Linked DNA regions of Homo sapiens. The protein of the gene in region 2 purifies or fractionates together with the protein of the main gene of each other region. This does not show direct contact. Each region holds a gene or a part of one and is shown on either strand. Other genes may lie near its edges. The genes, in order: ALDH1A2 and ZNF69.

Region 1 (3,821 bases), on a different chromosome or scaffold from region 2:
AAACACTCAGCTAATATTCATGAAAGCATAACTATTATAGGTGGAAATGAAGGTGGGGACAGGAGGACTGTGTGGGTCGGGAAAAGAGAAGCGATATGAATCAGATTGTTTATCACTGTCTCTCAACACACCTAAATCACATTTATCACACAAAATTGTTTTGACATATTCAAAATTATTTATTTTTTAAATAATTACATTAAAGTCTTGGCCTCTCTCTCTCTCTCTCTCTCTTACTCTCCCAGTGTCACTCTCTATCCTCTGGATCTCTGATCTCTACCCCCTCTTGCCATAATTATCTGTTTCCTCTTTTCAAGGAACTTTTATTCACATACAAGTATTTATAGGATCCTTTTATCCTCTTTTTTTTTATACAAACGGGATATTATTCAGTCTTTTATATTTTGTTTTTCCCTCTTTTTTTTTTTTTTCCTGTAAAGCTAGGACGTCTTTTTAGTGGCTGCAGGTTATTCCATGGGCTCAATAAACAATGTTACTACTGTAAACCCTCCTACTAAGGGACATAGAAGTCACTTTCAGTTTAGGCTATTATAAATAATGCTGCAAAGACTATCATTACAAACATATCTTTTCATATCTGTGGAATTTCTTGATCTAAGTGTATGTACATTTCAGATTTTCAAAAATATTGCCAAATCACCCTTCAGAAAAGTTTAACAATTCATAATTTCAACAACACGCTATTTTTCCTACTCTTTAACACTGAGGTTTTTCCAACATTTTCATTTCAGCTAATCTGATAGCTGGAAAACTGCAACTTGTTTTGATTTATGTTTAATGATAGAGTGAACATCTTTTCATGCTTATATTGTTTGCTATTTTTCTATTGGGTTATTCTTTTTAGCCATTTGAAGAGCTCTATGGATATTAAGGAAATTAGGCCTCTGTCATAATATTGCAAAGATTTTTCCCCAATCTGCTACTTATCTCTTGACTTTGTTTTATGTATATTTTAAATGGAAGAAATTCAGAAGTAGGCTGGATTCTGCAACTGTATGAAATTAATTTAAAATATCTATTACGAGAAAAAATAGCGAAGATGTTGCAACTGTCCATAGGATGACAGTATGAAGTCTGAGTAATACTTTAAACATCAAATTAACTATTTAGCTTTGTATGCAGATAACTAAAGAATCTTCTGGATATCATTCTTTACAAGACTACAAATTACCATGCTTCTTCAATTTGTAAATCTCTGAAAAGGTTTTTCATGAGGAGCAACACCACTGATCAATAAGCTAGAGTTTCATTTACAAGAAAATCTTCTGCAACTGAACTCTCTAAGTTGGTTAAGGTGATGGGTTCAGGTGGATAGTCACAGACCACAGAATCAGAGAGTAATGTCAAGAAAGAGTGCAAATGGGGCTGAGGAAAAAAATTGGAAGATGAACAGAAGAGTACACGTGTTTATTTTAGCAGCACATGTAGGAACCTGGAATGGTTCAGAAAAAAAAACTCACAAGGCAACTACACAAGCACTGCATGGCAATTCATAAACCATTTCCCCCTACACATTTTATGATGCTTAGACATTTAGTTGTTTTACTTAAATAATATCACAAGTTACCGAAAAAAGTGAAAGGGAAGAAAATGTAGACAAAAATCTTAAAAGTCGGACCTCATGAGGAATTGAGTTTGACTCCATAATTGTGTCTCAAGAGAAACTGAGTTATGAGGAATTAAAACTCTCTTGGATAAACCGTTCACATATTTGAAAAGCATTTAGCTACAGGCTAACACAGGGAAAGAGACAGAATCTTCTAGTCCCTACAGTTAGTCTAAGTAGCAAATTAAAAAATAAACGCTATTTTTGTGCTTGAACTCTTCCCAAAAGAGCACTGAGTTGAAGGGACAAAGAAAGGAGGCTACTTTCAATAAAATTCAACATTCCTTCAGGTTAAAAACTCTCAATAAAGTAGAGGCATTGATGGAACATACCTCAAAATAATTAAGAGTCATTTATGGCAAACTCACAGCCAATATCATACTGAACAGGCAAAAGATGGAAGCATTCCCCTTGAAAACTAGCACAAGACAAGGATGCCCTCTTTCACCACTCCTATTCAACATAGTATTGGAAGTTCTGGCCAGTTCTTTCTCAGGCAAGAGAAAGAAATAAAGGGCATTCAAATAGGAAGAGAGAAAGTAAAACTGTCTCTTTTTGCAGATGACATGGTCCTATATCTAGAAAACCCCATTGTCTCAGCACAAAAGCTTCTTAAGCTGATAAGCAACTTCAACTAAGTCTCAGGATACAGAATCAATGTGCAAAAATCACAACCATTCCTATACACCAACAATAGACAAGCAGAGAGCTAAATCATGAATAAACTCCCATTCATAATTGATACAAACAGAATAAAGTACCTAAGAAATACAGCTAATAAAGGAAGTGAAGGACCTCTTCAAGGAGAACTAAAAACCACTAATCAGGGAAATCAGAGAGGATACAAACAAATGGAAAAACATTCCATGCTCATGGATAGGAAGAATCAATACCATGAAAATGGCTATAATGCCCAAAGTAATTTAAAAATTCAATGCTATTGTCATTAAACTACCACTGACATTCTTCACAGAATTAGAAAAAATAACTTTAAATTTCATATGGAACCTAAAGAGCCCATATAGCCAAGACAATCCTAAGCAAAAAGAACAAAGCTGGAGGCATCATGCTACCTGACTTCAAACTATACTACAAGGCTACAGTAACCAAAACAACATGGTACTGGTACAAAAACAGACACACAGACCAATGGAACAGAATAGAGAAATCAGAGATAAGACCACACATCTACAACCATCTGATCTTCGACAAACCTGACAAAAACAAACAATGGGGAAAGGATTCCCCATATAATAAATGGTGCTGGGAAAACTAGCTAGCAATATGCAGAAAATTAAAACTGGACCCCTTCTTTACATCTTATACAAAAATTACCTCAAGATGAATTAAAGACTTAAGTGCAAAACCCAAAACTATGAAAACTCTACAAGAAAATCTAGGCAATACCATTCAGGACATGGGCATAGGCAAGATTGCATGATGAAAACGTCAAAAGCAATCGCAACAAAAGCAAAAATTGACAATTTGGATCTAATTAAACAAAAGAGCTTCTGCACAGCAAAAGGAACTATCAGAGTGAACAGCCTACAGAATGGGAGAAATTTTTTGCAATCTATGCATCTGACAAAGGTCTACTATCCAGAATCTACAAGGAATTTAAACAAATTTAGAAGAAAAAAATAACCCCATTAAAAAGTGGGCAAAAGGACATGAACAGACACTTCTCAAAAGAAGACAGTCACGCAGCCAAAAAACATGAAAAAAAGCTCATCATCAATGATCATTAGAGAAATGCAATCTAAACCACAATGAGAAACCATCTCACCCCACTCAGAAGGGCAATTATTAAAAAGTCAAGAAACAACAGATGCTGGCAAAGGTGTGGAAAAATAGGAACACTGTTCCTATTTCCCACTTTGTTTACATTCCCACTGTTGGTGGGAATGTAAATTAGTTCAACCATTGTGGAAGACAGTGTGGCAATTCCTCAAAGACCGAGAACCAGAAATACCATTTTACCCAGCAGTCCCATTACTGAGTATATACCCAAAGGAATATAAATCATTCTGTTATAAAGATACATGCATGTGTATGTTCATTGCAGCACTATTCACAATAGCAAAGACGTGGAATCAACCCAAATCCCCATCAATGATAGACTGGATAAAGAGAATGTGGTATATATACATCAAGGAATACTATGCAGCCATAAAAAGGAATGGGATCATGACCT
Region 2 (3,821 bases):
GTTGGTGGGAAATAGTCATTGAGCACTTCTCCTTTCCTCTCATGTGAAATGTTCAGAGAATCACCACCAGACACTCCCGTGTGAAAATTTGTATGCATCTCCTCCTTTCATCTATCCTAAAAACAGAGATCTTTTTTTTTTGAGACAGAGCCTTGCTCAGTCGCCCAGGCTGGAGTGCAGTGGCACGACCTCGGCTCACTGCAAGCTCCGCCTCCCGGGTTCATGCCATTCTCCTGCCTCAGCCTCCTGAGTAGCTGGGACTACAGGAGCCTTTTAGTAGAGACAGGATTTCACCATGTTAGCCAGGATGCTCTCTATCTCCTGACCTCGTGATCCACCCGCCTTGGTCTCCCAAAGTGCTGGGATTACAGGCATGAGATACCCCACCTGGCCTAAAAACAGAGATCTTATCAGATTGTCTTTTGGTTGAGGCTCCCCTTTGGAAACTTCAAAGGGTATTGTGTCTTCAGCACACTCTCCTATGTTTTCTTGGTCCTGGGTGGTAGAATGGGGTGACCTAATATTCCCACAGCTGCCATGTCTCTTGGAGGGTCTAGTGAGTATCAGCCCCTGAGTCACTCCTCCCAGGGGACAGACTGAGGTAGGAGAATGGGGACTCCCAAGAGAGCAGCTGAATGCCTTACGATGGAAGGAGACTCCTAGTATACTCTGCATCTAGATAGCCAACCCCTCGAGATGCTCAGCTTTTCTTTCCCAGTCCCAGTTTTCGTAAGTTGGAGACACATGGCTGGTCAGCCAGTTGGATGGTGCTATTGAGGGAAAGGAGAAATGATTCCTGTCCTCTGGATTGTGTCAACTGTGAAGGAAGACAAAACCCCAAAAGACAAGGAAAGCCCACCCCAACGGGGTGGACCAGTAGCCTGCAAATCAGAATATGAAATTGAGGTTCACAGCGGGGCATAGTGCGGTGTTGGTGGAAAGTAGTCATGAGCGCTTCGGTGAGCAGGATGGGGGTGGAGAGATGTCTCATGTGATAGGGTGACCTGTGCTGACACATGAGTCAGACATCACTGTGTTCCAGCCAGTATTGCCCCTCTGTGGGCTTGTCCCTTGTAAAGAATAGTTCATAGATTGCAGCTTGAGTATTTCAAATTAACTTTACGTTGCATTTTTCACTAGAGCCAAATCCAAGAATGATTGCATAGATCAGGTAAGACACAGAAGAGGCAACTCAACAAAGCCCATGACATACAGTGCATGGCTCACAATCCCAGGAGATGAGGGCAGCACAGCTGCAGAGCAACACAGAGTGGGGAGAACATCCAGGATGCACATTCAACCAGCAGGTGGGGAGCAAGACAGACAGGGACCTGTGGGCCAAAGCGTTTCTCAGGGTCCAGGGAATTGAACAAGGAGACGTCGCTCAGGGAGTTGTTTCTGGTGGATTTAGAGCAAGCAGGCACTAGTTCTGTGAAGTCATACTGTGATTAAGAGGTGGTCTGTACCATCCATGTGGGGTGTAAGGGTCAGTGGTACAAGTCAAATTGGTTATATCTAGCTGTCCCACAGGGAGGTGGTCACCAGAATGCAGTCGTGTAAGAAATATATGTGAGTTGACCACATGGAGGAAATGGGAGGAGGTGGAGAACTAGAAACTGTTAAGTTTGAATAAAGTTTTTTTCCGTTATGAGAAAGTTAAATCCATAAAGAAAATGCATGCTAAGGTAACATATAACTATAAGAACTCAGTATAAGAGGCAACTCTAGAATTAATTAAATTATTGTATGTGGAGATGATGGGTAGTAAACTGATTATTCTCCTGTAGATAACCATTTGTCGCTGCTTTTTCTGTTAAGTGTTCACCACTTGTATCATTGGCTGGCAATACCTGGTTTGTCATAGTTTCACATTACCTTAAACAGATGCCCAGACTGGGCATGGTGGCTGACGCCTGTAATCCCAGCACTTTGGGAGGCTGAGGCGGGCGGAACACCCGAGGTCAGGAGTTTAAGATCAGCCTGACCAATATGGTGAAACCCTGTCACTACTAAAAGTACAAAATTAGTCAAGCGTGATGGTGCATGGCTGTAATCCCAGCTACTTGGAAGGCTGAAACAGGAGAATCACGAGAACCTGGGAGATGGAGGTTGCAGTGAGCCGAGATCACACCATTGCTCTCCAGCCTTGGCAACAAGGGCGAAACTCCATTAAAAAAAAAAAAAAAAAAAAAAAAAAAGATTCCCTGGTTTCACAATTTGCTGTTTTCCATTGGTCTATCTTTCCATCTCTCTGATAATACCATTTTCTCTTAATTAGTATAACGTTCAAAGCTGTGGTGTTTAGTGGGTATATTGCCTGTCTATCTTAGTCATCTTGGGCTGCTATATCAAATTACCATAGACTGGGTGACTTAAGGGATAAACATTTATTTCTGGCAGTTCTTGAGGTTGTGAAGTCCATGTTAAGGGAGCTGGCAGATCTAGTGTCTGGTAAGGGCCCGCTTCCTGGTTTTGCAGATGGTCATCTTCTTGTGTTTCTTCATGTGACAGAGGAGAGGAAGCCGGCTCTCCTGTGTCTTCTTATAAGAGCACTAATCTCATTCAGAAAGGATCGACTCTTATGCTGTCATCTAATCCTAATTACTTTTCAGAGATGTCAACTTCTAATACTATATTGGGGGTAGGTTATTAATGTGTGATTTTTTTGGAGTGATGCAAATATTCATGCCGTAACACCCCCCAACCATATTCTATAGAGCATCTTGGCTATTCTTAGTCATTGTCTTGTATTTCGGTTTTTAGAAGTAGTTTTTTCTTAATTTTAGTGAAAAAAACAAACTGCCTTGTAAATTTCATGGACTAAAATATAACTGTAGTCATATTTCAGAAACGTTACATCATAGTGCTATTTAATCTCCTTTTAAGGACACATGACATTTTTTCATTTATTTCATTTTATATTGATGTTTTTCAGTGTAGACTTTTTGCATAATAATCATTTTATATCCTTCCTGAGACTTTTTTGGACTTGAAGAAAATTAGTTTTAATAGAAATTAGTGGCTGGGCATGGTGGCTCATGCCTGTAATCCCAATATTTGGGAGGCTGAGGTGGGTGGATCACCTGAGGTCAGGAGTTCAAGACCAGCCTGATGAACATGGAAAAACCTTGTCTCTACTAAAAATACAAAATTAGCCAGGCCTGGTGGCACATGCCTGTAATCCCAGCTACCTGGGAGGCTGAGGCAGGAGAATCACTTGAACCTGGGAGGCCAAGGTGGCGGTGAGCCAAGATCACGCCATTGCACTCCAGCCTGGGCAACAAGAGTGAAACTCCATCTCAAAAAAATAAAAATAAAAATAAAAATAAAGAGATTATTCCAGCATCGGCAACATGGCAAACTTTGCCTATACAAAAAATTACCTCGTCACTGTGATGTGTGCCTGTAGTCCCAGCTACTCAGGAGGCTGAGGTAGAAGGATCTGTTGAGCCTAAGAGTTCGAGGCTGCAGTGAGCTATGATTGCACCGCTACACTCCAGCCTGGGCAACAGAATGAGACCCTGTTTGAAAAAAAAAAAAAAAGAGTCAGGTGCGGTAGCTCACGTCTCTAATCCCAGCACTCTGGGAGGCCGAGGCGGGTGGATCACAAGGTCAGGAGATCGAGACCATCCTGGCTAACATGGTGAATCCCCGCCTCTACTAAAAATATAAAAAATTAGCCGAGCGTGGTGGTGGGCGCCTGTAGTCCCAGCTACTCGGGAGGCTGAGGCAGGAGAATGGCATGAACCCGGGAGGCGGAGGTTGCAGTGAGCCAAGATGGCGCCACTGCACTCCAGCCTGGGTGAGAGAGTGAGACTCCA

The links.
Region 1: the proteins of ZNF69 (region 2) and ALDH1A2 purify together in Homo sapiens (affinity purification with mass spectrometry; one large-scale study listed by BioGRID and IntAct). This does not show direct contact.

Annotation. Positions count from the first base shown.
Region 1 is NC_000015.10:57,996,087-57,999,907, forward strand, and holds part of ALDH1A2 (retinal dehydrogenase 2), read right to left. Parts: intron 1-3,821. UniProt on the Homo sapiens protein: Catalyzes the NAD-dependent oxidation of aldehyde substrates, such as all-trans-retinal and all-trans-13,14-dihydroretinal, to their corresponding carboxylic acids, all-trans-retinoate and all-trans-13,14-dihydroretinoate, respectively.
Region 2 is NC_000019.10:11,894,047-11,897,867, forward strand, and holds part of ZNF69 (zinc finger protein 69), read left to right. Parts: intron 1-3,821.